Homo sapiens: one gene and its partners. The protein of the gene in region 4 purifies or fractionates together with the protein of the main gene of each other region. This does not show direct contact. Each region holds a gene or a part of one and is shown on either strand. Other genes may lie near its edges.

Region 1 (8,009 bases), on a different chromosome or scaffold from region 4:
TTATGTTGTTTCCAGGTTTTTGCTATGAATGGTGCTGCTGTGAACATTCTCGTAAATGTCTTTTGGTACACATGTATGTGTATGCACATTTCTGAGTGGAATCGCTGGGTCATAAGATGTGTATATGTTCAGCTTTGGTAGATATTTTGGGTAGGTAATACCAACTTTAGATGCAAAAGTCCTAAATTAAGTATTAGCAAACTGAATCCAGGAATATTTATATATACAAAAGATAATACTTTCCAACCAAGTTGATCAACAGGATGGTATAATATTTGAAAATCAATCTGTGTAATTCACTACATTATCAGAATAAAGAGAAAAATCATGTCAATTGATAATCTCAGGATGATCATCTCAGATAAACAGGGACATGCTCTTCTGTAACAGAACATTGATCACACTCAAGAAATATTAATATTAAACTATAATAATGCATATTCAGATTTTTCCAGTTGTTCCATTAATGTCCTAACCATTTAAAAAAAAATCTGGGTTCCTACCCAGGATCAAATATAGCATTTAATTATAAAGTTGAAAACTTAATTATTGTAAGGTGAAAATCTTTTTAACTCTGTCTCATGGAAGAGGGTGGATTGCCTTGCCTGCCTAGGCATTTTTTTTAACCTCTCTTCTCAAATACAACTCCCTCCCATCTAAGAGGAACTATTATCCTAAGTTTTAAGATAATTAATGATAGTTTGGCTTTACCTGTTTTTCAGTATGGTTTTCATTGTATTTTTTAGCATAAATTTCTTAATATCAAATAGTAATATTTTAATAATAGTATTTTAATATGATAAGATCTCGTAATGTACGTATTTCCCCATCATCATAGTTCTTTTTCCTTTTGTATTTGTGTCCTCAGTGCATCACATCAGGATGCATGTGGTATCTGTTTGTCTCATTATTAATGATACTACATTTTCATCGTTTGATTAAGGTATTTATTTGCCAGGTTTTTCTACTATTTCTTTCTTTGTACAAGTTACTGATTTCCCCTTAGTGATAGATACTTTAGGTAAATATCCTGTTTGTCATAAAACTTTGATCCTAGTTTTAGCAATCATTGATGACTCTTGTCCCCAAGCATTTTTATTACAATGTTTACCAAATGCTACTGCTGAGTTTCTGGTTCCATCATTCTGCCTGTAGGTCATAGTTGGAATTCTGCAAGAAGGAAGGCTTTCCATTTTCCTTTTTTTTTTTTTTTTTTTGTTATTTCAGTACTTTATGTATTTTAATTTTACTCTATATATTCTGTTACTATTGTTTATTTTGTTGCATGAATTGTCCCAGTTTAGGCCAGTGGTGTCTATTTCAAATCAGTGCCTGAGCCCCTTTGACATGTCTTTTTGATCACTTTCTTACTTTCTGGCACAGATGTTTCAACTTACCTTGTACTTTGCTAGTCCCAGACCTGGAATCAGCCATTTCTCTAAGGAGGCTTGGTTTCTTTTGGTGGGGAATAGTATTCAAAAGTAAATGGTGCCAGATACAGTTTTTCTTTATATTTATCTTGTTTGGGGTTTGTAGACCTTTTTGAATTCGTGGCTTGAATTCTATGAGTTTTGGAAGATTCTTGGCCATTAAGTCTTTAAACATTTATCTTCTCCATTCTATCTTCTGTTCTTTTGGGACTCCAATTACTCACATTTGTGTATTTTCCAACCTTTTTTTCTTTTTATGCTTTAATTTTAATCCTTTCTTCTGCTGTATTAAACTTTGTGTTAAGCCCATTTATTAAAATTCGCAACATCAGTTATGTTTTTTCATTCTAGGATTTCCATTTGTAGGACTCTTTTAAATAGATTATACTTGTCTGGTGAAATTACTGATATCTGTGTTTTTTAAAACATATTAATCATAATTATTTTAGAATCTGTGTCTGGTAACTCCAGTATCTGGATTACTTGTATGTCTGTTTCTATAGGGTCCCTCTGCTTTTTTGGGTCATTTTTAATTTTTAATTTTTATTTTTTCAGATGGAGTCTCACTCTGTCACCCAGGCTGGAGTGCAGTGGCACAATCTTGGCTCAGTGCAGCCTTCACCTCACAGGTCTAAGCAATTCTCCTGCCTCAGCCTCCTGAGCAGCTGGGATTACCATGCCCTGCTTATTTTTGTATTTTTAGTAGAGGTGGGGTTTTGCCATGTTGGCCAGGCTGGTCTTAAATGCCTGACCTCAGGTGCTCTGCCCACCTCGGCCTCCTAAAGTGCTGGGATTATATGCGTGAGCCACTGCACCCAGCCTTGGTCATTTTTTAAAATGTAGGAAAGCAATTTTATAATCTGTGAAGTTAAAAAAACAATATTCTTAGATTCCCTGACATTCAGTTACTTGGTCTGTTTACATCAGTCAATATGTTGCTAAGTTTTGTGGTAACAACCCCAAAATCTTGGTGGTTTACAACAGCAAAGGCTTATTTCTTGCTCGTGTTGCATTTTGGTTTCTGAATAACTGCAGTTATGGTCCACGGTTATTATGTTCCATGTGTCTTATTCATTCTGGGATCCAGGCTGAAGGAGAAGCCCCTATAAGGGATGTATTGATCTCACAAATCAAAGTTAAGGATAAGTATGAATGATGTTAATGCCTTTGAAAACTCTGCCCAGTTGAGGGTCATGTCATTCCTCCTCACAGTCTGTTGGCTAGAGCAAGTCATGTAGCCACGCCTGCAGTTAATAGGTACAGAAGAGTATGTACTCATTCCCCAGGCAGGCATTACAAGGTATGTGGCAAGAGTAGGAATGTATAATCCTTTTTCAGCGAGGGAAGAGTGAATAATTATACAATTATACATATAATTATATAATTATAATTATATAAATATACGTATAATTATATAATTATATAAATTATAAAACAATGTATCCCACTATCCTACAGGAAAAACTCCCATTTGAAAAAGCTGTAGATGTATGAGATACAGATGGAAAATTATTAATAATGATAAATTATAAAAAGTAACAAGGAACTTTATGGCATATTCAGTGAAATGTTAAGCAGTTATCAAAATGATTATTATAATACAGATTGAGCATCCCTAATCTGAAAATTTGAAATCCATAATGCTCCACAATTCACAACTTTTTGAGCACTGACATGATGCTCAAAAATGTTCATTGGAGCATTTCTGATTTTGGATTTTAGGATTAGGGATGCTTACTAGTATAATGCAGATATTCCAAAATCCGAAAAAGTAAAAAATCCAAAATACTTCTGATCCCAAGCATTTCAGATAAGGTATACCCAATTTGTATCTAGCAACATAGGAAAATGCATTTAATATAATGTTAAGTGAAAACAAATGTACAAAGTATATATATCTTGAGTACAGCTATATACACACAATTCTACATTAGTAAGAAAATTAAAGATATACAATTGATAATAGGCATTTTAGGATGATAGATTTATGAATGATCTTTCATTTTCAGACAGACTTTTGTATTGCTGTTATTTTATACTTTATTTTCACAAAAGGTTTTTATTCTAAAAGTCAAACACATATATCAGAGAAACATTGGAAACTACAGAAAAAGGGATGAAAAGGTACATATTGGACCCGTCTCCCAAAACCACCACTTTTACTGTTTTCTATGTGTTGAAAAACATTAGTATGTTAAAAAAAATTGCCGGAATACCTTCTATTGTGTTGTCATCTTTCATTTTAGGTCCTGAAAATCCTTGGTTGGTTCAAGCTTATGTTTCAGCAGCTAAACACCCTTTTGCTTCTGTGGTGGCTCAGGAGGTTTTTCAGAGTGGAATCATTCCTTCAGATACTGACTTTCGTATCTACAGGGATTTTGGGAACATTCCAGGTATATTGTCAATGGTTACGGCCTACTGTGCAGCATTTATTTATCAAAAGCAAATTTTAAATCTTGAAAGTATGTGAGTAAACAGCATTTTCTGAGATCAAATTCTTTATGTGAGAAATATACATTGACTCACTAAAACAGAGTTTGTTTCCTTTTTTAAACTCCATACTAATTTAAATGCTGGCCTCCTCTAAAATATGTCATCTTTCCCCATAGAAGAACAGGGGTGAACTGTTTAGCACCTCATTCCCAAAAGATGGTAATAGATCCTTCAGGGGTCTTTCGTTGTTGTCTTGGTTTGCCAACTCCCTTGGCAACTTGTATGTACAACTTATTTGAAGTTAAAATTTGGCTCTGGCCTGGCAAGAATGTAGGTGGCAAAATTTTCATGACCTCCCAAACTCAATATTCCTATCCTTGCTGTGTGACTTGTAATGCCTACCTGTGGAGTAATATACTTCTTCAATCATTATGTATCGAATTATGTACCAAAGCTATAGACTGTGTAAGAATTTGGAAGAGAATTTATATCAGTCGTTTGTAAATGTGACAAAGCAATCGTGCCACTGCTTTGACATTTTGTCTTTTAGGAATTTATTAAAGAAATAGGTCGAAAGCAAGGTTGATCTTTAAAGCAAAATGACTTTTTTTTTTCTATATATATGTTTTAGGAATAGACTTAGCTTTTATTGAGAATGGATACATTTATCACACCAAGTATGACACAGCGGACAGAATTCTAACAGATTCCATTCAGAGAGCAGGTTGGTATTCCAATTTAGACTTTTGATATACACTAAGATGGAATGTTAGGGATGATACATAAACTTGTAAATATTCTGTGGCCTGTGCATTAGAGAGGCAGTATGCAATGTGAATGAGCTAGGGCTTTGGAGTTGGAGAGATGAGATCTTGAATTTTAGTCTTGTAGTCTAGTGTAGCAATTAAGGTCAGGAATATTCATTGTGAGGAAATGAAAAAGGAGTTGGCCCAGGGTTGGGAGGATTGCTGAGTGGTAAGAATGTAGCTCTGTTAGTCTCCCATGATGTTTTCCTGTGGAACTCTGCTAGCTCTCCTCAATTTTTAACACATGTGTGACAGCTTGTTCAGCATCTCTGAGCTTCGTGAAAGGCCTTTGTCTCTTGGTTCACCACTAAATTTCTGATATCTAGAAGAGTGTCTAGTACAGTTAATATATATTATTAAATGAATGGGTACCAAGAAACAGCCATTGGATTTGTCAACAATGAAGGTACAATTGATCACAGAGAATAGTTCTAATAGAAGGGAAAAGATACAGGCCAGTTGGCTGAGCGTCTGAGTGGAGAGGAAATGGAGAAAGGCAGGGGATGGACCTTATTTGAGAAATTTAGTAAAAAAAGTGAGGGAGAGCAGTAGGATGGTAGAAAGCGATTTCTGTTCACATTCTTTCTAACCATTTCTTCATTCAAACAGTATATGGTTTATTTCTGCTTTAAATAGTGGTATGTGTAAATCACAAATAGTTTATTCAGCCTTTTTATCTTTTTCCTTTTCTTTCTTTTTTTTTTTGTTTTTACTAATAGGTGACAACATTTTAGCAGTTCTTAAGCATCTAGCTACATCTGATATGCTGGCTGCTGCTTCTAAGTATCGACATGGAAACATGGTCTTCTTTGATGTGCTGGGCCTGTTTGTCATTGCCTACCCCTCTCGTATTGGCTCAATCATAAACTACATGGTGGTAATGGGTGTTGTTTTGTACCTGGGCAAAAAATTTTTGCAGCCCAAACATAAGAGTAAGTATTTTCCTCTAAAACTACAAATACTGGCATTGCTGTAGAATGTGCTTGAAGTTTTTCAGTCAGTTTGTTTATATCTTCCCAGAAAGCTAAAAATCTTAAGACAATGTTTGCTTTATATTGTAAGAAATTTTTAAATATTAAATTAATATGCTTATTTTACTTTTAGTCTTGGTGAAGCAGTCAATTTTTATATATTTAGGCACTCCATAAAAGTACCACATAGAAACTATTGAAAAATGGTTTGTACAGATTGACTTCTAATGAAAAGTCCCATTAAAAAGTCCACACTACAGACCAATAGCTAGTATGGACCAGTGTCACGAAGTATGAATGAACTGCTTGTGGTTAAACTGTTTCTTTTATTTGAAATATTTCTGCTTGAAATGTTTCAGAGTCTAAGTTGTTGTGTGCTGTTACGAGATAAAATATTTAGCAGCAGTTTAAATAATTCTTTATCAACGCTTATTTTCCCCACACTCCTTATCTTCTTATGTTACCTTATTTTAACAACATTTTATATGGAACTTTGCCTTCCATTCTTGCTAATATTTTGATACACAAAGCATACCAAAAGTGAAGAAGATTAAGACTATCCTCTTCCTTCATAAGGAATGTACCTGAACTATTCCTAGAAGATTTATCTTTTTGAGTGTTTAGTATCTAGAGACTCTTAATAAATGTTACCTGAATATTATTATTTGATACCTCCCTTGTTCTTGTGTTTGGCCAATCTCAACACTAGGACATTTTCATACTTTTCAAGTACAGTGGGGAGTTTTTTGTTTTAATGTTTGCCCATTTAGCTCTACTGACTGGTTATATAACTGATTTGATGAAGATGGTGATTTCAACTTTTTGTTTTCTCTTCATTAGCTGGTAACTACAAGAAGGACTTCTTGTGTGGACTTGGCATCACTTTGATCAGCTGGTTCACTAGCCTTGTTACCGTTCTCATTATAGCAGTGTTCATCTCTCTTATTGGACAGTCTCTCTCATGGTATAACCACTTCTATGTCTCCGTTTGTCTGTATGGAACTGCAACTGTAGCCAAAATAATACTTATACATACTCTTGCGAAAAGATTTTATTACATGGTAAGTGTTTGGTATATTTGTTGATTTCTTTCTGTTGCCTCCAGGGACTGAAGATGAACTTAAGTGTGATTCATTGTATTTGGCCTTTTGAGTGCTAAAAAATTGTTCAGCATGGTTATGGAAAACGCACCTACACTGTGTTAATTTTCTGAAAGATTTCTTATTCTGAGGGTAATGTCACAAAATTCAAATGAGGTTATAAAGCCGGGCTGTTAACAGTGTTAGGGTGGTGGTGACTGGAAGGCTTGTTAGCACAGCCTTCTACTGAATTTGCTGCAGTGTTTGTAAATATGTCCTGGGCTCACCCACTTATTTATGTTATTTGAATATCTGTTCTCCATTGGAGTGTAAGCTCCTTGAGGATAGGGATTGTTTTATTTATTTCTGTATCCTCTGTGCTTAGGTAGTGTCTGACACACAGCATTAACACACAGCAAGTATTTGTTGCCTAAAAGAATGTTGTACTTAAAGTTTTTTCAGTTTTTCCCTCACTGTTTTTTCTTTTTAACTGTATATTGTTGATTCAGATTCTGCATGCATGTATGTCATTGGAGTTAAAAGACACATTGCTAAGGAAAACAGAGGGAAGGGAAATAGGGTTCCAAATGATTTATACTGAGAATATTGTTATATTATTATGGTTTCAAATGCATAAATTTGTTTGGCAAAAATAAAATTAGAAATTAGGGCTGGCCGGGCGCGGTGGCTCACGCCTGTAATCCCAGCACTTTGGGAGGCTGAGGTGGGCGGATCACAAGGTCAGGAGATCGAGACCATCCTGGCTAACACGGTGAAACCCCGTCTCTACTAAAAATACAAAAAATTAGCCGGGCGAGGTGGCGGCGCCTGTAGTCCCAGCTGCTCGGGAGGCTGAGGCAGGAGAATGGCGTGAACCCGGGAGGCGGAGCCTGCAGTGAGCTGAGATTGAGCCACTGCACTCCAGCTGGGGCGACAGCGAGATTCTGTCTCAAAAAAAAGAAATTAGGGCTATGGGCTGGGTGCTGTGGCTCATGCCTGTAATCCCAACACTTTGGGAGGCTGGGCAGGCGGATCGCTTTAGCCTGGGCAACATGGTGAAACCCTGTCTCCACAAAAAATACAAAAAATTAGCCAGGCATGGTGGTGTGTGCCTGTAGTCCCAGCTACCTGGGTGGCTGAGGTAGGAGGATTACCTGAGCCCATGAGATCAAGGCTGCAGTGAGCTGTGATTGTACCACTGCACTCCAGCCTAGGGGACAGAGTGAGACCCTATCTCAAACAAACAAACAAACAAAAATTTAAAAAGCTGTAAAATAATAGGTCTAAAAA
Region 2 (8,215 bases), on a different chromosome or scaffold from region 4:
TATGAGTTGGCCGGGCGCGGTGGCTCACGCCTGTAATCCCAGCAGTTTGGGAGGCCGAGGTGGGCAGATCACGAGGTCAGGAGATCGAGACCATCCTGGCTAACATGGTGAAACCCTGTCTCTACCAAAAATACAAAAAATTAGCCAGGCGTGGTGGCGGGCGCCTGTAGTCCCAACTACTCGGGAGGCTGAGGCAGGAGAATGGCATGAACCCGGGAGGCGGAGCTTGCAGTGAGCCGAGATTGTGCCACTGCACTCCAGCCTGGGCGATAGAGCGAGACTCCATCTCAAAAACAAAACAAAACAAACGAAAAAAAACAACTCTATGAGTTAAGTACTGTTAATATCTGCCTTTAACAGAGAAGAAAACTGAGACAGAGGGAAGTGCCACACCAAAAGTGGAGGCCAGAAGCGGAGGAGCCAGGATTCAAATCCAGGATCTGTCGTCTTAAGCACTATGTTATTTACTTAGGAAAATAATATAAATAAATAATAATAACTGAGCATTTACCAAATGCCAGGAGCTTTCACACACATTCACTTTCCCATAGAGCACTCACATTTACCCTGGGAGGAAGGTGCCATTGTTCCATTTTATAGACAAGAAATCTAAGGCTCAGAAAAGTTCAGTACCTTGCCAGGGTCACACTCACACAACCAGCATGAACAGATTAAACCACGGTTTGGATAGCCCCCAGACTCATGCTGTTTCTCCCATACCATATGTGGTTTTTTATTTTTTATTTTTATTTTTCTGAGACAGGATCTCACTCTGTCCCCCAGGCTTGCGTGCAGTGGCACAATCACACCTCACTGCAGCCTCAAACTCCTGGGCTCAAGCAATCCTCCTGCCTCAGCCTCACAAATAGCTGGGATTACAGGTGTGTACCAATGTGCCTGGCTAATTTTTTTTAATTATTATTTTTGTGGAGATGGGGCCTTGCTATGTTGCCCCCACTGGTCTTGAACTCCAGGCCTCAAGCAATTATCCTGCCTCAGCCTCCCAAAGTGCTGGGATTATAGATATGAGCCATGCACCTGGCCTGGTTCTTTCCTAATGGCAGAAACAGTCTTACAACAATGAGCTTTACTTTAAGCCAAAGACACGGGTTCAACTCTTGACTCTGACTTAACTTATTATACCTCCTACCTCTCCAGCCCTCAGTTTCTTCAGCTATTAAACAGAGCTGGGGGGACCAAATGATTTTTTTTTTTTTGAGACAGAGTTTTCACTCTTATTACCCAGGAGTGCAGTGGCACGATCTCGGCTCACTGCAACCTCCGCCTCCCGGGTTCAAGCAATTCTCCTGCCTCAGCCTCCGGAGTAGCTGGGATTACAGGCACCTACCACCACACTCGGCTAATTTTTGTATTTTTATTTTTATTTATTTATTTATTTTGAGACAAAGTCTCACTCTGCCATCCAGGCTGGAATGCAGTGGCATGATCTCAGCTCACTGCAACCTCCGCCTCCCAGGTTCAAGTGATTCTCTTGCCTCAGCCTCCTCAGTAGTTGGAATTACAGGCACGCACCACCACGCCAGGCTAATTTTTGTATTTTTAGTAGAGATGGGGTTTCACCACGTTGGCCAGGCTGGTCTTGAACTCCTGACCTCAAGTGATCCACCTGCCTTGGCCTCCCAAAGTGCCTGGATTACAGGTGTGAGCCACTGCGCCCAGCCTGGTTCTTTCCTAACGGCAGAAACAGTCTTGCAACAAGGTCTTACTTTAAGCCAAAAGACCGGGGTTCAAATCTTCACTCTTACGGGTTCAAATCTTCACTCTTACTTAACTTACTATACCTCCTACCTTTCCAGGCCTCAGTTTCTTCAGCTATCAAACAGAGCTGAGAGGACCAAATGATTTTTAAGGTCCCTTCTATATCCCAGGATTCACTAGTTCCCTCTCATTAATCAGCACAGAGGCTTGGAACAAAACTCCAGGATCCATGACTACCTTCAAACAACAGGGGTGTGTTGTCAGCCAGGCCACTTGGCTCCCAGCTCACCTAGGCCAGAGGAAGCAGCAGCTGCCTTGTCCGCCTCCCCAGCGTTCACGAAAGGTGGCTGACCTAAACCCAGGACAGAGACTTGGGGCCACTACCACTCTCATGATCTATTCTTAGCCCAGCCTCTCAGGGTGGGTGAGGAAGGAAGGTGGACCAAGGACAGAAGGACTTTTTTCTAGGTTCCAATGGATTCTCAGGCACCACCCCCAGGCCTGTCACTAAAATCTTCACTGGGACTGATAAGGAAGATCTTGCCAGAGCCAAGACCCGTCAGGCATTTGAGGAAGCTGCCTGTGAAAGGAACCAGGGTTTTAAGCAGATAACCAAAGTTGGGCTGACTTTCAGGACACGCCAGAGACACTTATTCTGGAAAACACTTAGGCTCACATCAAGGGAGCAGTTTTATCTTTCAGAGTTTCCCTTTATGACCGCAACAGAGTTTTTGTGCAATAAACTTACTAACCGGGAGTTTTGAAAAAAGCAAGTAAGCAAGCAAAGGAGTGGATGGGTGGAGTTAAGGAGATGTCTCAAAGCGCCCAGCTGGGATTGCTTTTCTGGGCCACTGCCATGCATTCTGAGTGGCTGAGATGATCCAAGGAGATCCAGGGGAAAGGGCACAGACTAGGGGGTTCCAGCCCTCTGTGAGTATCTCACAGGCGGGGGCTCTGCCTGTCACAGGCTGGGGCGAGGCTCTTCCACAGGTCGTAAAGGGATTCTGTCACGCGCTGGAGGGATCTGATCTGACGCAGGGTGGGGTCTGCGCGGGGTCTGCCACAGGCAGGCAGGACAGAGGTGAGATGGCATCTCCCAAACAGGGCAGGGGTCAGCTCCTAACTCCAAGGGGAGGCGGGGGAGTGGTGACAGGGGCTGGTTCATCCCCACCCCATTCCACACCCCTACATATACAGAGACACACACGACCCCGCTTGTCACCACCTGCCCAGTCAAGCTCATGCTGCCCAAAGTGGGTCTGCAAACACTAACTGCTAGTGACACCAGCTACCCCGGGGCCTCCCAGGCGTGACACGCGTGCAGATGCTGCTGTCACGGCTAGGAGGAGGACCTCCCCTCCAATGACTCGTCCACCACGGCAGCTAGCACCGGCTTCTCTGGGCGAGGCGACAGCGGGCCGGCTCGGGCGGGGACAGCGGAGGACCGGGGTGCACTCACACGTTGAGGACGTTGCGCTTGTTGCTGAGGTAGCTCTCGGGCAACGGGGACAACTCCTTGAGGAGGGAGCCCGCCAGCATGGAGGCCACCAGGGCCCAGGGCAGGTAGCGCCGCACGGCCGCCCGCACCAGCGTCCCCCGCAACAACCACTCGCAGCGCTCCAGATGCTCCATGCCGGATCTCGTCAGCCACCGTCCTCCTCTCCGTGCCCTCTCGGCCACCGTATCGCCCTTCGCCCGGACCTGCGCCTCCACCTCCCTTCGAGCGCATGCGCACTGCCCGCGAGTCCCACAGCTTGAGGCGTGCTTGGGCTCCGGAGCCCGCGCGCTCCCCCTCGTGGCCGCTGCTGCCTCTGGCGCGTGACGGTCCCCGAACTCGCTCGTCTCCTCTGCGCTCTCCTGGCCGCCTCCTCTCCCCGAGCCTCCGCGTCTTGCTCTGGTCTGGGAAAAAGCGCTTGTGAAAGTATTTGCTGGAGGCTGGAAGAGGATAAATGTAGCCCTGGAGAATTGGAGCAGTAGTCACAGCATCATTTGATCTTTCTTGGAGCCTCGGAGACACCTCTGCCATCTGAGTCTTAGTTTTCTCATCTGTAAAATGCGAGAGACAAGAGGAGATCAACCTTTCCCAAAAGCTAGTTTATGAGCTCAGGGGTTCATTACGTTGGCACACGTAGAGGGACATGAGATGAAGTTTCCTTAGGAATAATTATTGTATTTATTTATTTATTAGTTAGTTGGGGGGGGGTCCCTCTCTGTCGCCCAGGCTGGAGTGCAATGGCACCGTCGCAGCTCACCGCAACCTCAAATTTCTGGTCTCAAGCAATACTCCCACCTCAGCCTCCCGAGTAGCTGGGACCACAGGCGGGCACCACCACACCTGGCTAATTTTTTTTATTTTTATTTCTGTAGAGACAGGGTTTTGCTTCGTTGTCGAGGCTGGTCTCAAACTCCTGGGCTCAAGCGATCCTCCTGCCTCGGCTTCCTAAAATGCTGCAATTACAAGTGTGAGCCACCACGCTCTGCAGTTATTAAATTAATTAATTAATATAATTAATTTATTTAGAGACATAGTCTCGCTCTGTTGCCCAGGCTGGAATGCAGTGGCGCGATCTCAGCTCACTGCAGGCCTCTGCCTCCCAGGTTCAAGCGATTCTCCTGCCTCAGCCTCCCGAGTAGCTGGGATTACAGGCACGCACCACCACACCCAGCTAATTTTTGTATTTTTAGTAGAGATGGGGTTTCACCATGTCGGCCAGGCTGACCAACTCCTGTCCTCAAGTGATCTGACCTCTCCAAATCTTAACCTCAAGTGATCTGCCAGCCTTCACCTCCCAAAGTGCTGAGATTACAGGAGTGAGCCATCTCACCTGGTGCAATTATTACATTTAAAGTTTAAATTTCTAAATTTATTTTCACCTGGGCAACACAGTGAGACTCAGTATCTATAAGAAATAATTTTAAAAACTAGCTGACTTGGTGGCTCAGGCCTGTGGTCCCAGCTACTCAGGAGGCTGAGGTGGGAGGATTGCTTGAGCCCAGGAATTTGAGGTTGCAGTGAGCTGTGATGGTCCCATTGCACTCCAGCCTGGGCCACGGAGCGAGACCGTCTTAAAAAGCACACAAAGAAACACAAAACAGCTATCTATGCCTGTTGGATGAAAATGCTGGATGCTGGGGGTTAATGGGGAGATCACATGAAGTTGTTGGAGACTCAGTTGCTCAGTTTATCACAAAACTAACCCCTCACCCCTGGTTAGGGCTGGGTGTCTATTTCAGTTCCCAACCTTGGACTCATTCCCTTACCCCAATGTTAGTTTCCTGTGGCAGCTCTAATAAATTACTATAAACTCAGTTTATTTTTATTCCTTTTTTTTTCTTTAGTTTTAAATAGAGATGGGGTCTCACTATGTTGCCCAGGTTGATCTCGAACGCCTGGGCTCCAGTGATCCTCCTGCCTCGGCCTCCCAAAGTGCTAGGATTACAGGTGCGAGCCACCGTGCCCAACCCTAAACTTGTTTTAAACAACAGAAGTTTATTCCAAAAGCCACAAACCCAGCCAATACACACATATATAGTCATATCAAGAGATGGGCATTTTAGGCCAGACGTGGTGGCTCACGCCTGTAATCCCAGCACTTTGGGAGGCCAAGCTATTTTGATCTTGGCTCACTGTAACCTCTGCCTCCCGGGTTCAAGGTAGTCTCCTGCCTCACCCTCCCAAGCAGCTGGGACTACAGGCACATGCCACCACACCTGGCTAATTTTTTTGTATTTTTAGACAGGGTTTCGCCATGTTGACCAGGCTGGTCTCCAACTCCTAGCCTCAAGTGATCTTCCTGCCTCTGCCTCTCAAAGTGCTGGGATTACAGGCGTGAGCCACCACACCCGGCCCAAAGAAAAATTTCTATCGAAATATTCATCATCACTAGCTGCCCAAAATAATTTTGTGTCTCTATACCAAGGACAGCTACCACACTGGGAAATGTTAGCCTGATTTATGCCTACAATGGACTAATGTTTATAGTCTCATGCAGAGAATCAACAAATTAATGAAAATAATAATTCCTTAAAACCATCTTAAGATGACCTTCATATCTGTAAATTGCATTTATCTGATTAGAGTTCTTATATAGCAAGATGCTTCCAGGCCTTCAGAATGCTTGGTTTAAAAAATAAAATATAGTGATAATTATACCAATTTGGCATTTCATGATTGGGAATAAAAACTACATAGCCAGAAAGGGGTTATTTATGAAGGCAGCTTGTAAATAGTATCTGATACCATCTCTGTCTCCTTGAGTTTGTCAGGTGCTCAATTACTGTGGCTTTCCTTAGCAAACAGCATAAGAATTAAGAGCAGGGATGCTGGGTTTGAGTGCCGGTTCTCCTCCTTATTAGCTGTGTGGTTCCTCCAAAGAAAATCCAGATACGTCCCCCAACCCAAGAAGGAGGGAAAGACTGCTCGGTGAATATAAACACTAAATATCACCCCGAGGGACTGTCCAAAGAGTACCTTCTGAAAGGTTCAGGATTTGTATTTTTGAGAAAGGAAATGGGTTTGTTTCCTTTGAAACTGCAGTTTCATTCCTGGAGAGTTTTCTTTCCCTCCCTCCCTTCCTTCCTTCCTTCCATTTTCTCTTTTCTTTTTTTCTTTTTCTTTTTTTTTTTTTTTTTGAGACAGGATCTTGCTCTGCACTCCCAGGCTGGAGGGCAGTGGTGCGATCATAGCTCACTGTAGCCTTGAACTCCTGGCCTCAAGCAATCCTCCTGCCTCAGCATCCAAAGTGCTGGGATTACAGGCATGAGCCACCACGCTTGGCCACCATGGCTGGAGATTTTTGAAGACTGGGTTAAACTCAACCTGAAAAAATTGTTGCAGGTCTCTAGAGAAGTTTTTGTATTTAAAAAAAAATTGAATCAGTATTGGGAAATACATATTTATGTTGTGAGTGAAATGATGTGCTGTAGTCAACTCATACCAGCCTGCAAGAGCTGATGATTAAATTTTCAGAACTTTTGCGGGGTGATTGTCAAACACAGCCATATTAAGAACTGCATTATAGGGCCTGGGCCTGTTGGCTCACCCCTGTAATCCCAGCACTTTGGGAGGCCAAGACAGGTGAATCGCTTAAGCCCAGGAGTTCCAGACCAGCCTGGGTAACATAGGGAGATCCCATCTCTACAAAAAATACGAAAATTAGCCAAACATGGTGGTGTGTGCCTGCAGTCCCAGCTACTCAGGAGGCTGAGGTGGGAGGATGGCTTGAGCCCAGGAGACTGAGGCTGCAGTAAGCTGTGATCATGCCACTGCTCTCCAGCCTGAGTAACAGAGCAAAATCCTCTCTCAAAAAAAAAAAAAGTTACATATATAAAAAAACAAACTGAAAATACTCAAAACTCATTAGTTACTAATTATTTTACTATGTTTTATTATTATCTATGCTCTTGGGGTAACTTACATCTATTGTTCCTGTATGGTAAGCTCCTGCACAACTCTTCCCAAATCTATTCAGTGATGTCACATTGAGAGCTTGAAATCAGCCACAGGGGGAGTATTTACACTATGGAAATTGGCAGGTGCTACAAATCAGGGATTTATTTGGTTTGTCTACATTGAGAGTCAACTCCATTTGTCAAAACATGGTTGAATTGAAACCACAGGTTGCCTATGGTTACAAGAATCCAACAAAAATCAATAAAAGCATTCTGTGAGAATCAATTAGCTATAGTTATAACAAAGAGTATTTATATATTTCTTTTCTTTCTTTCTTTTTTTTTTTTTTAAGACAAGTTCTCACTCTGTTGCCCAGGCTGGAGTGCAGTGGTGTGATTATGGCTCACTGCAGCCTTAATCTCCTGGGCTCAAGTGATCCTCCCACCTCAGCATCCCGAGTAGCTGGGACTACAGGCGGACTAAATCAGCCATCACCTCTAGCTAATTTTTGTACATTTTTTGGTACAGATGTGGTTTTGCCATGTTGCCCAGGCTGGTCTCAAACTCCTGGGCTCAAGCAATCTGCACATCTCAACCTCCTAAAGTGCTGGGATTACAGGTGTAAGCCACCAAGCCTGGCCATATATTTTATTATTTGTAAATAATGTGCTACACATTAAGAAACATTTATAATAAACATAGGTAGGTATATGCTTATACATGTTTCCCTAGAGAGCCAATAGTAAACCTTTATTTTATTTTATTTTTTATTTTTTTGAGACAGAGTCTTGCTTTGTCTCCCAGGCTGGAGCGCAGTGGCACGATCTCGGCTCACCGCAACCTCCACCTCCCAGGTTCAAGCGATTCTCCTGCCTCAGCCTCCTAAGTAGCTGGGATTACAGACATGCATCACCACACCTGGATAATTTTTGTATTTTTAGTACGGATGGGGTTTTACCATGTTGGCAGGTGTGAGCCACCACGCCTGGCCTTAATAGTTAAACTTTTTTTTTTTTTTTTTTTTTTGAGACAGAGTCTGCCTCTGTCGCCCAGGCTGGAGTACGGTAGCGGCGATCTCGGCTCTCTGCAAGCTCCGCCTCCCGG
Region 3 (7,093 bases), on a different chromosome or scaffold from region 4:
GCATCTAGTGGGTAGAGACCCCTGAGATGCTGCTGAAATCCTACCACAATCAAGACCTATTTAGACCAAAAGTCAACAGCACCAAATGAGACACTGTCTTAGTAGGATCTCACCATGTGATAACCCCCCAGTACCTCAAGCACATACATACAAGTCCAATAAAAATTCCAGAAACTCAGCTCCCAAAACCACTTTGATACGTTAAAGTTGATTCGATGAAAGAGAAAACTAGCAGTGTCAGTTAGAGTTGCTGATGTGACCTGTTTGATTGTTTCTTTGTTGTTTTTGAGAAAAAGACAAATTATTTTGCTAAGGTTCATCTACGAAAGTAAGTTGGAATAAATAATTTCTATAGTTTCTTTGAGATGCAAAGTCTTATGATTACAGGCATATAAGGTGGCTGAAATTCTAACAGCCTATTCTGGGATTTTTTTGTAACTTAAAAAATAATATTTCTGTGAGGCTGAAAAGCTAAGACCAAATTATTGTCCTTTAAAATGTGGGGAAGCCTTCCCTATGAGATTTTCATCAATACACAAGAAATACAAACAGCCAAAACAACTGCAGAAATTTAAAGCCTATAAATTTGCTATTTGTGGGGCTTCTTCTTGCCCATGGAAAAGGTTTGACAGACTGAGAGAAACAAGAGAAAATTACCACTGAGCTGTAACTCTTTCCCTTCAAAGCTGTAACATGAAATGCATACAACCAGAAACTTTAAAACTGCACCTGTGTTACCTGCTGTGTCATATACATTGGTAACACTAATGGTGACAATCAGCTTTATTTTCTGTTGGTTTATCTAAACTACTCTGGAAATGTTACACAAATGTGAGTCAATGAGCAATTTTAAAATGCAACTCTAGGAAAAACTACCTAGTTACTTTTCAGTGTAAGCTCCCACAGTGGAATCTCATTTTTTAAATCCATCAGTTCAAAAAAGGTACCATTTTTTTAGATATATTAAAAGCCAATGCCTACAGACACTTTTAACAGATTAAATGCAGAGTGTGATTATTTACATAGTAAGAACTAGAAAAGAATTTCTAAAATGTTCCTCAGAAGTAAGCATCTTCTAATATATACACATACACACACACACATACACATACGTGTGTATAAAATTTTACATACTTTTTTAAAAACAAGTTTTTTTCCCCTTTTGGAAAGAAAGAAGCACATGTATAACTGAGTATGATTTCCTGTGTCTGAACTCAACCTGCACTGAACTGAACTGTTGCTGCACATTTTTGGGAATCACGATTTGAAATCGGCATACTTCAGGGCACCTTCCTTGAGTGGGTCACAAAACACAACTCCACTTTCTCCACCTCACCTAACCCCATTCTTGCATCTCATCTATACTATCAGGGAGACCACTTCAGTGAGACCACTGAAACCTCAATTCAATGATCAGACTCTTGTCACTCAACAACAGGTCATCTTCTACAGACCAAGTCTGCTCTGCAAAACACAGCATGATCTAAATTCCATTTGCAATTTTTTTCCAAGTATTTGTGTGTGTATGTGTATGTATATATATATGTGTGTGTATATATATATGTGTATATATGTGTATATATATGTATATATGTATATATATGTATATATATATTTGTGTGTGTATGCAAAGTATCAGAAAAATACACACTGAAATGTTAATTGTGGTTATTGCCTGGAGTAGTAGACTTATGTGTAATTTTTTTCTTTTTTTGCTTGTCTACAGCTTCCAACTTTTTCTATATTAAACATAAAAGAAAAATAAGTTACATCCCATATGTGTATTTTTTTACTCTTTCTGATTTCAAAAAGAATTCTGAAAAAAATTCTTTAAAGAAAAAGCAACAAGTACACAAAGATTCCTTTCAAAGTGAGGGCAGTTAGAGACAAGGGCAAGAAGAAGAGCAACATAACCTCAAGAAGCCAAAGGTTAAAACTCACCAGCATGCAAGTGCCAGTGTCATATTTATTGGCTGGAGGGAGGAACACAATTGGCTCTAAGTTTACTGGCTTCCATAGAACATTCCTCCCCATCCTCTTCACCTCACCCCCACCAGCCTTAATTAAGTTTTGTTTAGGGAAAGATGAGAATATTTTTCAGCATTCCCTGAACTCACTCCCACATGAGATCACATGGTTCCTGAAATGTGTTCAGGGAGAAGGAGCTAGCTGCAAACACAACCAATAGAGCCCTAACTATACTAACCCACTGACTCCAGGGGAAAGTGTGTCTGCATACACCAGCTCAGAACCCCCAAAATGGCATTGCTTTAATTTCCTAAAGATGCCTCTCTGTGTGCAATTCACTGCTTATGAAGGCAGTGGCAAAGGACATTCAGTCCATGACAAGACCATATCTGGGAGCTTCTAGGGCCATTTCAAGGCCAAGGCACACTTTAATGGAGAGGTCCCAGAAACAGTGCTTACCATAAGCTGTCATGACTCCAGCGTATGGCCCATCCACCACATTCCTGTTTTCTTCTGCCAGTGCCTTGATGTACCTTTTGCTGAGGTCCAGGATCTGCTCGCGCAGCATGGAGCTGCTTTCAGGCTGAGTTCGCTGCTGGATGGTAAAGTGCAGAAGCATCATACCCCAAATGAAGCCAAAAGTCACCAGGAAAAAGCCCAGCTTCTGAGAGGACAACTTCCACGGAGTGAAGAGAGCCATTGCTCTCTGGCAACTTCACCTGTCCTTGGCTCTTAACGCGTAGAAGATAGACACAAATTCATGGTGTAGGTTGAGTGTGAGAGTCTGCTGGTCTCACTCTGGCTCCTGTGTCAGCTGGTTGCCTTTCCTCACTTCCATTCTGCTGTGAAGGAGGAGAAGAATTAGCCAAGTGGTCATGGCACAATACAGCAAAATAAACCAGAAGCCATGTTTTCACTTGAATACCTCTAAGTAAAATGTCAACTCTTAAATTTGCTGGTTCAATATCTTATGATTCAGGAACTGTAAGCTGAGGGGAAATCTGGCTAGGCAACAAGAAGCTAAGCAATTATGAAGGGGGAAGTGTGCGTCTGCGTGTGTTAACAGGTGTAGTGGGGCTGTTCCAGCCTGGACCAAATTCAAAACAGGAAGTTTGTTTTGCAAGGTGGGGAGGAGACAGAAGGATATTTGGCGGAATGTCAGCAAAAACGGGGAGGGTGGAGTCATATCACCATCAGGCCCTTTTGTGTGCCTGTAACTTAAGCTTACAAAGTCATTATTATGTGCTTCTGGCAAGGACTAGAACATGCAACTGGTGAGGTGAGCAAGAAAGTGGATGCCCCCTTGGGGGTAACTAGACAAAGAAGAGGTAGATTGCTACATCTTATTTGAGCATGGCCAGCTTTCACCATCAGTGTTTAGTGATGAGATGGCTCTCTCAGGGCCACCAGGCAACCTCTCTAGGTGCACCAGCACAGAGAAGATATGCCAGAGGTACAAGCAGGGGTATTGCTTTCCCAGCTACATGAGGAAAAGGTACACCTCACTGCTCACTTGCATGCTGTAGCACAAGAAATGTGGAACACCTGGCAGGCAGATTTTCTGTGGTTCTCACTTTCACTCCCACCATGAGGCAAAATGAGACATTAAAAGGCAGAGTAGTTTCAATATTAATGCAGCCAGATCCTATCTAATGCCAGCACAGACCAGGCCACTCTTCTCAATCAGGGCTTCCCAACAAGTAGGACCTGAGCATAGGTTGCAAATGGTTACCAGCATGCCCACCCCTTCAGCCAGAGTCCTGGGCCCAATACCAGTCAGCTTACGAATAGCGCCATTTTCTAAGTGCCACTCAAGGGAGAGGCTGAGCAATGATCCGATCCCTTATAAGAGACTAACCCAGGCTGTACTTCAGAGTGTACATACATGCTTCAGTCAAAGGATTCTTCTTTGCAAGCGGCCCAAAAGAAAATGGTAGCAGGATCTTGAAGCAATTAGCTTTCAGAGCCCTGGATCACTGTTGGTCTGCCTCTTACTGTTTTCCCATTGCCTATCAACAGAGTAAAAATAAATTATAAATTCTAGCTATATCCCAGATATTGTGACATACCATCTTTTGTGGCTTTGCTCACTGAATCCTCAGAAGTTCTATATGGTAAGAAGTATGAATATTATCGTCTCTGTTTTATTAGAAACATGAGAAAATAAAGGTAAAAGGTGATTAACTTGGCAAAGGTCAGCCAGCTATGTGGCAGAGGACTGATCATCTAGGCATGGCCCAGGGGTTATTAAACCATGCCCCACCTTCCCTACATCATCCTCACTCCCCCAACAGCCTGTTTGTATATGGCAGAGAATGATATATATATGCTTAATGGGTCATGAAAAGCAATAAAAAATATGTAACAGATACTCTTTGTAGCCCAGAAGGCCTAAAATATTTACTATCTACCTCTTAACAGAGAAGGTTTGCCAACCTCTCAATTCTAGACCAGTGGTTCTCCAAATGTGGTCCCAAACTCAGTAACAGCAGCATCACCAGTGAGAAATGTGAATTCTCAGGCCCCACCCACACCCACTGAATCAGCAACTGAGGAGATGTGGTCCACAGCCTATCCTTTAACAAGCCTCGAGGTGATTCTGATGCACACTCATGTTTCAGAGCCCTTGACCAGGCAGCCTGATTCCAGACCCATACATTCCATCACTATTCAACACCCACCACAATGCCTATTAAAATGAGGCTCAACCTCTGTCTTGTACTATCATAACGTAAGTTCCTCTGCCCCATCACACCCCTCTCCCACTACGTACCTGCTGGTCTGCTCATTACCATAAACCCTGCACATGCTTCCTGAGAGGCTTCCCCTTCTTCACTCGGCTGCTCCTCCCACCCAGCTGGCACATGAGTGCTCTCTATTATGCTGACAATCAAACCCAGCCTGTTTGCCAGACCCCAGCTCTAGTCCCACCACCTGCCTCAGACCACTTTCCCCAGGGCTCCAGCCTGCAGTGTTCCTTTCCTAGTCTTACAACACTTCTCTGACAATGGAATACTATTCAACCAGAAAAAGAGAGAGAAATCCTGTCTTTTGCAGCAACAGGGATATACCCGAAGGACATTATGCTAAATGAAATAATCCAGGCACAGAAAGGCAACTACCGTACAATCTCACATGCAGAAGCTAAAAAGTTGCTATCATAGGAGATAACAGAACAGTGGTTACCAGGGGTGGGGAGGAGAGAGGGGGATGAGGAGGGAGTGGTCAATGGGTAAAAAGTTACATTTAGGAGGAATAAGTTCTGGTGTTCTATTGCACAGCAAGGTGACTATGGTTAATAATAACGTATATTTCTAAAAGAGACAATTTTAAGTGTTCTCACCACAAAAGTAATAATTATTTGGGGGTGATGTGCATGCTAACTATCCTAATTTGATCATTTCACAATGTATATGTGGATTGAATCTCACATGGTACTCCATTATTATGTATAATTATTGTATCAAATTTAAAAAAATTTTTAAAACAGGGAATAAAGGAGTATTATGAGTTAAAAACACCTGTCTACCTTGGATTGTTCAAAGTTTCTATGTGGGACTCTATGACATCCTTTAGGGAGCCCCTCCCCACACACACACCTTCTCAGAGAAAGGCACTGACCACAGTGGCACAATAAAGTATCTGCTAAATGAATATGTCGCCTAGGGCACTACAGCACTTTATTCAGCCCTTCTAACTGCAGGCCAGCCAACTAGCACCTGCCCTCTTTCCTTCCTCCACTCCGCTCCGCGCCAAGTCTATATTGAGCATGAGCGGCCATCAGGCCCTGGTGACTGAACAGTGAACAAGATGGAGTTTCCACCCCATCAGAATTACACTCTGACAGCCACATTACGAACTAGGTGCTGCACCTAGCTCCAAGGGAATTGGCTTTTTTTTTTTTTGATAACCCATACTCATTACTCATTACTTAATTTTGAACCAGGGCTGAAGGAATTTTCCTAGAGCAAGCCAATGAGGTGCTACATCAAAAAAGGTGATTTTTCTTTCACTATTTTAGTAAAGAGCCCGAATCACTGGTAGGAATTAGCTGTCCACTTTCAGACAGGAAACCCCACTCTACTTCCTCAATTAACCCTACTGAATAGGCTGCTCAAGCTATGGAGTTAAAACAAAGGAAAGATCAAGGGCTAGGAACTGAACAATAGCTTCCTTAGAAGGTAGAAGGCTTCTTCTCTGCCCTTGCCTTGGAGAAGGTCAGACACATCCAGATGGTGTATCAGAGGCGCAAAGAGATGGCCAAAAAATCTCAGCCTAGGTAAAATTATCCCAGTTCAGAGACATGCAAATTTGAAGTGAAAATCCCTAGCTATGCGGAGTTCAGAGTACAGTTCTGATTAGTGAGGGCCCAGATTTTAAGTGACTATAGAAGTGCCAGGAAACTTCTCTTCTCCAGTGGTACTTAGAGCTTGAAATAATAGAAACAATATCAGTATACACACAGCACACACAGAGAATCACAGAATGCATCTCTACAATTCCTATTAAGATGACAGAACTTAAGACTTTTCAAAAGCATTATTCAGGAGACACCCCTATCTCTCACAGTAACAGGTGGACAATGAGGAGGAAAATGAACAGCCATCCTCATAGTCTTGGTGCCACAAAATGACAATGAAGATCATCAGGAATGACCAGACAATTAATGAGGAAGCCCTAGACTAACAGTGATCAAGAAGTTGTTGCTGGAGCTAAGAAGATGCCTACCTCCAGACCTTCTAACGGCTGTGTCCTCTAGCTAAGTCATCCAATGGGCACAGTGGGACTATACAGTGGATCTCAGAAGACCTTGTTGCCAACCAGAGTAATGTCAGCTCATGGCCGTGACTTCATCAATTCACTTCCAGAAAAAAGTTTGCACCAAGTCTGTTTGCAGAATTAGCCACCTCAATATGCATCCCCTCTATCCTCCTACTTTCTAAAAGAGTAGCAATCACCTTGTTCCTTCCCACTGACGCCTCAACACAACAAAATCATCTTCAACCTTTATAAAGATGGTTAGAGATCTCTGGCAAAGAAATGTGTCAATTCTCCTGAAAGAAAGAAAAAAAAAGCACATGAAAAGATGCTCAACATCATTAGTCATTAGAGGAAATGCAAATCA
Region 4 (8,415 bases):
TTTGGCTGTTTGGAACAGTTCAGCCAATTTATGAAGACTCCAACCTGCTGGCTCTTTCTGTCCCTTGCTGTTTTCTTTTTATCTCTATACAGTTTTGTTGCTCCCTTTACTTATTGATTCATCAGCCTTCCTCTGTAAAGCCCTCCTAATTCAGCAAGGCCTTCATTAGGGCTGTCCATGAAGAGATGGTCACCCACTTGTCTGGCCACCCGAATGTGTATTCACCAATTCACTCCTAATTAGAAACCCAAAAATCATTTACGTATTTTCTCGTAAGATTTGGCAAAATGTTCTAGAAACAGTTGCATGGCTACAAGTCATAAACGCCTACCTGTTAAATCTTCATCAAAATATCTTTATTCACTTTGCTCAACCCCTCTGTAGTAACTGGGGTCCTTGTTGCCATGATTTTGTGACAATGGCTCTTGATTTTGGTGACAGATGATGCTAGGTTTATTATGGCCATAGTAAAGACCAAATTCAAAACACTCTTTTCTTTTTTTCCTTTTTTTTTTTCTATACTAGAATATCATTGTTTTGGCTGCACACAAGATGAAGTAAGTGGCTTTCATTTAGAGGCCATGTTTTACCAAAAAATATGTTTCTTAAAATACTAGATTCCCCTCAGCATAATGAGATACTCACTTTTGGGGAGGGTGTCAGAAATTGCTGGAGCAACAGATTAATGATCCCCATTTCAGTTTCACATCAGGCATGGGCTCATTGAACACAATGGCTGGTGGGTGAAGTCACCCATACTGTTAAATTATCCTCTCTCTCTGACTGAACACATATGCTTAAATTAGGATAAAAGTTAGGACTATTCTCAATTGTCTTTTAAAGCTTGAGAGGGGAGTGGGCTCTCACTATGAAGAAAAATATATTTCTTAAGACGGATGATCTTTTTAAATGCTTAAACACCAAGTATATATATTTTCGAACATAGCAAATTGCAATTAATTAATGAATCCACTGAATTTTACCTTCTAGTTGAATTTGCAAGGTCATATGAGTAAACACTGATGTGAATTTTAAGTCTTGGTGACATGTAACAGGAAAGACAAGGTCTAAATTTTAAGAAAAGACTGAAAAGCCACTTACTTCTTGCAAATGGAAGAAAACTCTGTGCTATTTGAATTATTGTTTAAGAAAATCCTATGCAGTTTAAGAAAAACAGGATAAGAACTAACACAAAATGCTGCTTTTCTTTAGACAGATCATTAAGTCTCTCCACCTAAACTCTTGAAAAATCTGTAACGATTTTGTCTGCTTGTCAAATTGCTCCTCCAGTAATTTCACAGTTACAACCCACGCACATATCGACAGAGCATTTCGATTCAAATGTAACTTTCTAACAACAAACTTATATAGAAAAGGTGTCATAGGCGTAATTGAGAGGAACAGAAGATCAAGAGTGAAGAAAATTACATCTTCTTTTCTCAATTAAGAAAAAAACCTAAATCATAAATATTGTATTCATATACATTTACAAACTGATAGACCACTAAACGTTTTTTCTGATTTAAAACTGCTTTCCACCACTGCTGCTGGTGCATATATTAATGAGGAAAAACCCACTGTGACAGAAATCTTCCCCTCACGGCATAGCCACCTCCACCCCCATAAAAGAAAGCTTTTCAGTGTTACCTGAGAAAAAAACATCACAACTAATTACATCATTTTTCTTGGTTCCCGCATCTACCAAGGCTTGCTCAGACACATTCAACCTGTTACCACAATCCATGATTTAACTCAAGGTTTTATTTAGTGTAATGAATATCATTCCTCTATTTAAAATGCTGTTTATCTTTCCTTAAGCAAATTGATCGGCCAATAAGTATCATTATTAGGTATTACAAAAAAGATGTTGTCATAAGGTAATTTATTCTAAGTTAAAATAGTCCACTGAGATGTCTTGTAAGAACAGAAATTACCATTAAAATGTCCCATTTACAATCACTGATGAAAACTTGGGCTATTTGTGCATATAATAAAGGGAGCTGAGGTTTTTTAATTTAAAAATAGATCACATGCTATTAATGTAGATTTTTGTGTTTCTATTACAGATTATCATGAATAAGGGTACTAAGGACTAAAATTGGGAAATCAACTTATCTATTATCTCTTGCTTATATAAAACCTTCATGTATTTAATATCGATGGTCCTTTATTACGTGTGTGTGTGTGTGTGTATGCACCATATATGCCTCAAAGTATGTGTGTGTACATTAAGAGAAGAAACCCAGCATAGCTAAATGGCTAAAAATATGGTAACTATACTGTGCTTCCACCCTATATATTTTATCACATAAAATACAGTTTTTTACGATAAGTGCCTTTATATACATTTGAAATTAACTTTGACAGCTGAATCTTTTTCAACACTACTCTTGAATATTACCTTTATGTAGTATTACCTGTGTTACTGCTTCAGTACTAAGAAAATGAGACCATTTTCTCTGACATTACATAAGCCCGACAGCAGACGAGAGAAACGCTGCCTATCTGGGGTGAAAGCTAGCTCCCTCTGAAGCTACCATTTGACACGTTAAAACAATTCTCGAGTTGATTGAATCATTCCAAATTACCAATATTTGACCATTTCAACCTTCAAAAATGGAAATTTCACTTTAACTCATACAGCCAGATATACCTAGACAAGCTTTAAAAACACATAAAAAAATTTCCTTTAACATTATTACTCAGAAGTTGATTACAGTCAACTATATAGAAAGGAAAATCTTAACGCTTCCATACACCCTGAAAATTTATGAACTTTTGCTCCATCTGCTTAAACCTATATTGCATCCTCGTTTTTAGTTTTTATTTTTTAAAGATTGTTTTAAAAAGGTGCACCAATCAAAAGATAATTAATGGTCTTGGTCTTTGTTCTATCAGATGTCCATGCAAAGATATGGATAATGGTTCCATCACCAAATTTTTAACTAACTCCAAATATTGTATTTGTGGCTCACACTAGGGATCCCTTGACCCAGCTCGGCAAGTGTGAAATCACGAAATAAATGAAGGTTAACAAAGACTGGTCTAAGGAATAGTTCACTACAATACCGCAATGCTCTTCTCACTAATACTCGACTCTGCATTTCGGTACTTATATCTGAAAGATTTGCAAATAATGACAACATTCGTGCCAGACATTACTGCAAGTGAGGAACAGACTAAAGGAGAGGAAGGAACAAAATGCCTTCCAAGAGAGAAACATTCATTAGCCTTACTGGCAAGTGTCTAAAGCAAACAAGGAAACTGCAAAATAATTACTTAGTTACAAATAAACGCTTTTAGCACAGTACCTTTTTGTGTCTGTCCCTCTTCCATATTCTCTTCCATGGCTACCTTTCTTCAGTAGAATCTGGTACACGGAATTAATCAAAAGCTCAATTAGATGTTGGAAAAACTGGGGGTTTTTTTTTTTTTTTTTTTTTTTTTTTTTTTTTTTTTTTCCTGGGAAGCTCCAACAGCAGTGGCTTGGGCAAGTCCTCAGAGCTTAGCTCAGGCTCCCTCGTTCCTCTTGTTTGCTTGGAGACAGGCTGTCAAGTGTAATTTCATTCAAATTACTCTTCCGTGAAGATTATCAATTTTTCTTCTCAAAGCTGCCCATTGTGTACCACTGTAAGCAGGTATTCAAACAAATAGCCTGAGAATTTTGGGGGGAAATTTGGTCTGAATCCCAGGAGCAGAGACACTATGATTCACAAGTCTTGCTTTGCATTTAAAATGGGGAAAAGAAATTGAGGTTTGTATTGAAATCTGGGCTTTAAATTGGAAACAGGCTGAGCTGTGAACAGATGGAGGGGTGTCCTCCTAACATGAAGCCGACCACCAACCCGTAATTCCCCCCTTCATTCCAGAGTGGGAAAGCCCAGATTCCCGTCGGTTCTTTATGCTGCAGCAGTGGCTTCTCACCCAGTCAGATACGTTGCAAAAAAACTGTGTTTTCCTTTTCTCTCCTCACTAAGTATTTAGTTAATTTGATTTAAGGTGCCAAGAAAGGATGCAGTTATACCATCTCAGGGTTTATCTGCAAAAGTTTATTACTAAGACAGGACTTGTAATCCCACACCTTTGAGATTTAAAAAGAAATAGAAGCGTGGCTGTCAAAGGAGTGAGTATAAAGCTCTAAGCCTGAGAGATACATGTTTTAAGTAATTATTTTACTTAGTGCCATATGACTCTTAAGTAAAAGGGAGAAAACCACTGGAAGGAAAAACCCTATTGATGTCTTTGTTATTTATTGTTATGATTATAGCCCACGAAAGCTGCTGGTTTCCAATGAGAATCTCTTGAAAGGGAATTTCTTTAAAGGTCAGTGTTAGGGAATGAGAAGAGTGATGTAAGGGAGGAACAAATTTTAGATAAGAAACAAGAGGATAGCAATTTATAATGGGAATCTGCAAGCTGATTTGGAATGCAAATCACAATGCTGCAGTCTGGCGATAATTAGCATTTGTACTTCAGCCTACTGAGTGACAGGGCACAGTCCAAGAGTCTCAATACTTCACAAAAGGTATAGCAAGAAAATAAACAGTATCTCTTTCAAGGAGCATAAACCTTTCCTAGAGTAGAAAGAAAGGATCCTTGCCTCTGTCTTCATCTCCAAATCAGCCAGCACACACACACACAGGGACAGAAACACACACAGAGGGACAGAAAGACACACACAAGCACACACACGGAGAGGCACACACACACACAAGGACACACACACAGACATAACTGTAACTCTCTGCCTTTAATGAAAAATAGCTCACATCCTCATTATCCATAGCATACGTTTCTTGCATTATAGCTTGTATTTCACATGCATTCTTTAAAGCAGGCCAGTAGCATGCTGCACATCACCCTCTAAATATTACAAAAGCAGCTATTTAGAGGAAACACAATTACTGCATTCCACTTTATTTCTCATAAATGAATGTTTAGTCCTCTTACTTGTATAATCATTTGTTATTATTTTCTCTTTTCAAATGAATTTTGTCCAAAAATAACTGGAGTTCAAATAACTCAAAACCTATCTCTTTGGAATATATATCAATGTGTATTCAAGGGTTTTTGAGAGAGCTGCTTGCTCAGTGCACAGATTGAGAGAGAGAAACCATAAGGGAAATCAAAAAGCCAAATTGTAGCAGCCTCTCTGCTTCAACTCATCCCTAGGCTGACATAACCTGGCATATAATCAACACAGAACGGAGCAACGCTCCTCATTTAGATCCTTCATTCGTTTTATACCATGGAAATCATTAGTGAAAGCAATTGTTTATTGTAGTGCCAGTAGATACAATAATGTCACCTTAAATTTTTAGAACACTTTACAATCTATAAAACATGATTACATACATTAACCCGTTGTAAGTCAAATGGGAAAAGCATAATTTTCCCCACTTTATGATGAAAACAAAAAACAAAAAACACGGATGCTCAGGGACACCTAGAGACTGGGCTAATAAATCACCAAGTAAGTCTTAGAACCCATGTCTGTTGATTTCTTGCCTAATGTTCTGATCTTAGAAGCTAATTTTCCTTCCTACTCTGTTCCTTTATGAGTATCTTCAGCATCTTCAGAAATCAGCCTCAGTTCATAGCTTTCTTTTTCACCACACATATAAAGCAAAAGAGGGAAATGAGAGGGAAAGGAAATTTTAAAAATATTCATGATTTCTTTTTCTTCTGGAAATTTTGCAGCAGAATACACTCATATAACCATTCACTTTTTGTCTAAAACAGGCTTTTTCATGTGACAATTGTTACCAACATAAGTCAACATCAACTTGTACCAATTTTTAAAATATACAAAAAAGTCCTCAGAGCCAGTCCAAATGGACTCGTCAAATGAATTAAGAGAGATGCATACACATACATAGCCTCCTCACAGCAATCACCTGTCAGTAGGCTTTCAGTATTTATTGGGGTAAAATATAAAAGAAAAATTTGCCATTTTGATCATTTTTAAATCTGTAGTTCAGTGGCATTAGGTACATTCACATCATTCTGTAACCATGGCCACCAGCTATCTCCAGGACTTTTTCATCTCCACAAACTGAAACTCTGTGCCCATTAAAAACGCACTCCTCCTTTCCCCTTCCTCCTGTTTGATGGCAGTTGAGTTGTTGATGATTTTCTCTTTTTTTTTTGAGATGGAGTCTCGTTCTTTTGCCCAGGCCAGAGTGCAGTGGCATGATCTCAGCTCACTGCAACTTCTGCCTCCAGGGTTTGAGCAATTCTCCTGCCTCAGCCTCCCGAGTAGCTGGGATTTCAGGCATGCACCACCACACCCAGTTAGTTTTTGTATTTTTAGTGGAGACCGGGTTGGTTTCACCATGTTGGCCAGGCTGGTGTCAAATTCCTGACCTCAGGTGATCCACCCACCTCGGCCTCCCAGAGTGCTGGGATTACAGGCGTGAGCCACCAAGCCCAGCCAAGTTGTTGTTGCTAATGGTGGTTTTAAGATTATTTTTTAAAATTTGGATCTCATTGGAAGTAAAAATATTTTGAACCTCCAGTATCTTAAACTAGTTAGAAAAGAAAATCGTTTCACATTATAGTAGATTTGCTTTATTAATTATAAAATATACTATATAAAGCTTAATAACTAGCAATGATGTGTCCTTATGGGGACTGAAATGCCTCATCTAATACTCTTTCCATTGTATCGTATTGTATTTGCCCCATTCTACTCTTAGTCATTTATTTAAAATATATGGGCTGTAGGCAGTGGCTCATGCCTGTAATCAAAACACATTTTGAGGCCAGGAGTTTGAGACCAGCCTAGGCAACATAGACAGTCCTCATCACTACAAATATTTTCTACTCTTTTTCTTTTCTTTTTTTTTTTTTTTTGAGATGGAGTTTTGCTCTTGTTGACCAGGCTGGAGTGCAATGGCATGATCTCAGCTCACTAGAACCTCTGCCTCCCGGATTCAAGCGATTCTCCTGCCTCAGCCTCCCAAGTATCGAGGATTACAGGCATGTGTCACCATGCCCAGTTAATTTTGTATTTTTAGCAGAGACGGGGTTTCTCCATGTTGGTCAGGCTGGTCTCGAACTCCCAACCTCAGGTGATCCGCCTACCTCGGCCTCCCAAAGTGCTGGGATTACAGGCGTGAGCCACCACACCTGGCCATTACAGACACTTTAAAAAAACAAATTATCCAACCATGGTGGTGCACACCTATAGTCCCAGCTACTGGGGAGGCTGAGGCAGGGGAATCACGGGAGCCCGGGAGGTTGAGGCTGCAGTGAGCTATGCTCACATCACCGCACTGCAGCCTGGGCCACAGGGTAGGACCCTGCCTCTAAAAAATAAAATAAAACAAATATAAGTTAACTAGGTGGTTAAAAATATGATTATATTTTTATCAAGTCAGATTTCCCTTTCAAATACTGTCTAAGAAATGTTTATAATGTATATTACTTTTTTCTTATGTGAGCTCACTCAATCCAAAACCATTATAATTCTCTTTCATTTTTCTTAATCTTAATTTGGAGCTTCCTTTAACACTTCATCTTGTCTTTATGGATAAACACATTATTATATACAATAAGTAAATATCGACATATTCCTCTATTATGTAATGCAGTCATCTTTGTGATACAATGTTCATAATATAGACAAGTAAGGAGAGTTAACAGATTAAAGAAGTTGTGGTTCCAAATATCGCATTAACTATAAAAAGTGAGGGGGAAAAATGTTCGTAGTCCCTGGGTCAGAGAACAGAGAGGAGATGTGGAAAAGAAGATCATGAAAACCTAGCCCAGTGCATAGGACTAACAGGCAGGAACACGGTTTAGAAACTGCCTTTTATTCTACGTCAAATGTTTCAGACACAGAATTAACATTATCTCTAGAATGAAATGTCTTAGTTGGGATCTTCTTATATTTTGACAGAGAAAAAGGACCCCTTTGTCTGCTGCTTTAAGCTCCAAGTCAGAAACTGACTTTCATAACATTTTCTTTTCTTTTTTTTATTTTTATTTTTTTTTTGAGACGGAGTCTCGCTCAAAGCCCAGGCTGGAGTGCAGCGGCGCGGTCTCGGCTCACTGCAAGCTCCGCCTCCCGGGTTCACGCCATTCTCCTGCCTCAGCCTCCCGAGGAGCTGGGACTACACCCCGCCACCACGCCCGGCTAATTTTTTTTGTATTTGTAGTAGAGATGGGGTTTCACCGTGGTAGCCAGGATGGTCTCGATCTCCTGACTTCGTGATCCGCCCGCCTCGGCCTCCCAAAGTGCTGGGATTACGGGCGTGAGCCACCGCCCCGCGGCCAACATTTTCTTAAAGAAAGTCAAAACCACCACAAACACTGCAATGTTTTCAGTCCATTATAAAATGACCATAACATTCTTCAGAGTTACATAATCATAGAAAGCAGTCAATTCACAGAATGATCGTGGTGTTCACA

Evidence for each region.
Region 1: the proteins of GPM6A (region 4) and ERMP1 purify together in Homo sapiens (affinity purification with mass spectrometry; 3 studies listed by BioGRID and IntAct, with this or other methods). This does not show direct contact.
Region 2: the proteins of GPM6A (region 4) and FITM2 purify together in Homo sapiens (affinity purification with mass spectrometry; 4 studies listed by BioGRID and IntAct, with this or other methods). This does not show direct contact.
Region 3: the proteins of GPM6A (region 4) and MGAT5 purify together in Homo sapiens (affinity purification with mass spectrometry; 4 studies listed by BioGRID and IntAct, with this or other methods). This does not show direct contact.

The regions. Positions count from the first base shown.
Region 1 is NC_000009.12:5,808,703-5,816,711, reverse strand, and holds part of ERMP1 (endoplasmic reticulum metallopeptidase 1), read left to right. Parts: intron 1-3,676; coding exon 3,677-3,823; intron 3,824-4,494; coding exon 4,495-4,587; intron 4,588-5,388; coding exon 5,389-5,601; intron 5,602-6,480; coding exon 6,481-6,701; intron 6,702-8,009. UniProt on the Homo sapiens protein: Within the ovary, required for the organization of somatic cells and oocytes into discrete follicular structures.
Region 2 is NC_000020.11:44,307,798-44,316,012, forward strand, and holds the start of FITM2 (acyl-coenzyme A diphosphatase FITM2), read right to left. Parts: upstream 3,406-8,215; 5' UTR 3,352-3,405; coding exon 3,179-3,351; intron 1-3,178. UniProt on the Homo sapiens protein: Fatty acyl-coenzyme A (CoA) diphosphatase that hydrolyzes fatty acyl-CoA to yield acyl-4'-phosphopantetheine and adenosine 3',5'-bisphosphate.
Region 3 is NC_000002.12:134,249,979-134,257,071, reverse strand, and holds the start of MGAT5 (alpha-1,6-mannosylglycoprotein 6-beta-N-acetylglucosaminyltransferase A), read right to left. Parts: upstream 3,001-7,093; 5' UTR 2,669-3,000; coding exon 2,428-2,668; intron 1-2,427. UniProt on the Homo sapiens protein: Catalyzes the addition of N-acetylglucosamine (GlcNAc) in beta 1-6 linkage to the alpha-linked mannose of biantennary N-linked oligosaccharides.
Region 4 is NC_000004.12:175,808,880-175,817,294, forward strand, and holds the start of GPM6A (neuronal membrane glycoprotein M6-a), read right to left. Parts: upstream 3,386-8,415; 5' UTR 3,349-3,385; coding exon 3,312-3,348; intron 3,311-3,311; exon of another isoform or gene 2,981-3,310; intron 1-2,980. UniProt on the Homo sapiens protein: Involved in neuronal differentiation, including differentiation and migration of neuronal stem cells. Plays a role in neuronal plasticity and is involved in neurite and filopodia outgrowth, filopodia motility and probably synapse formation.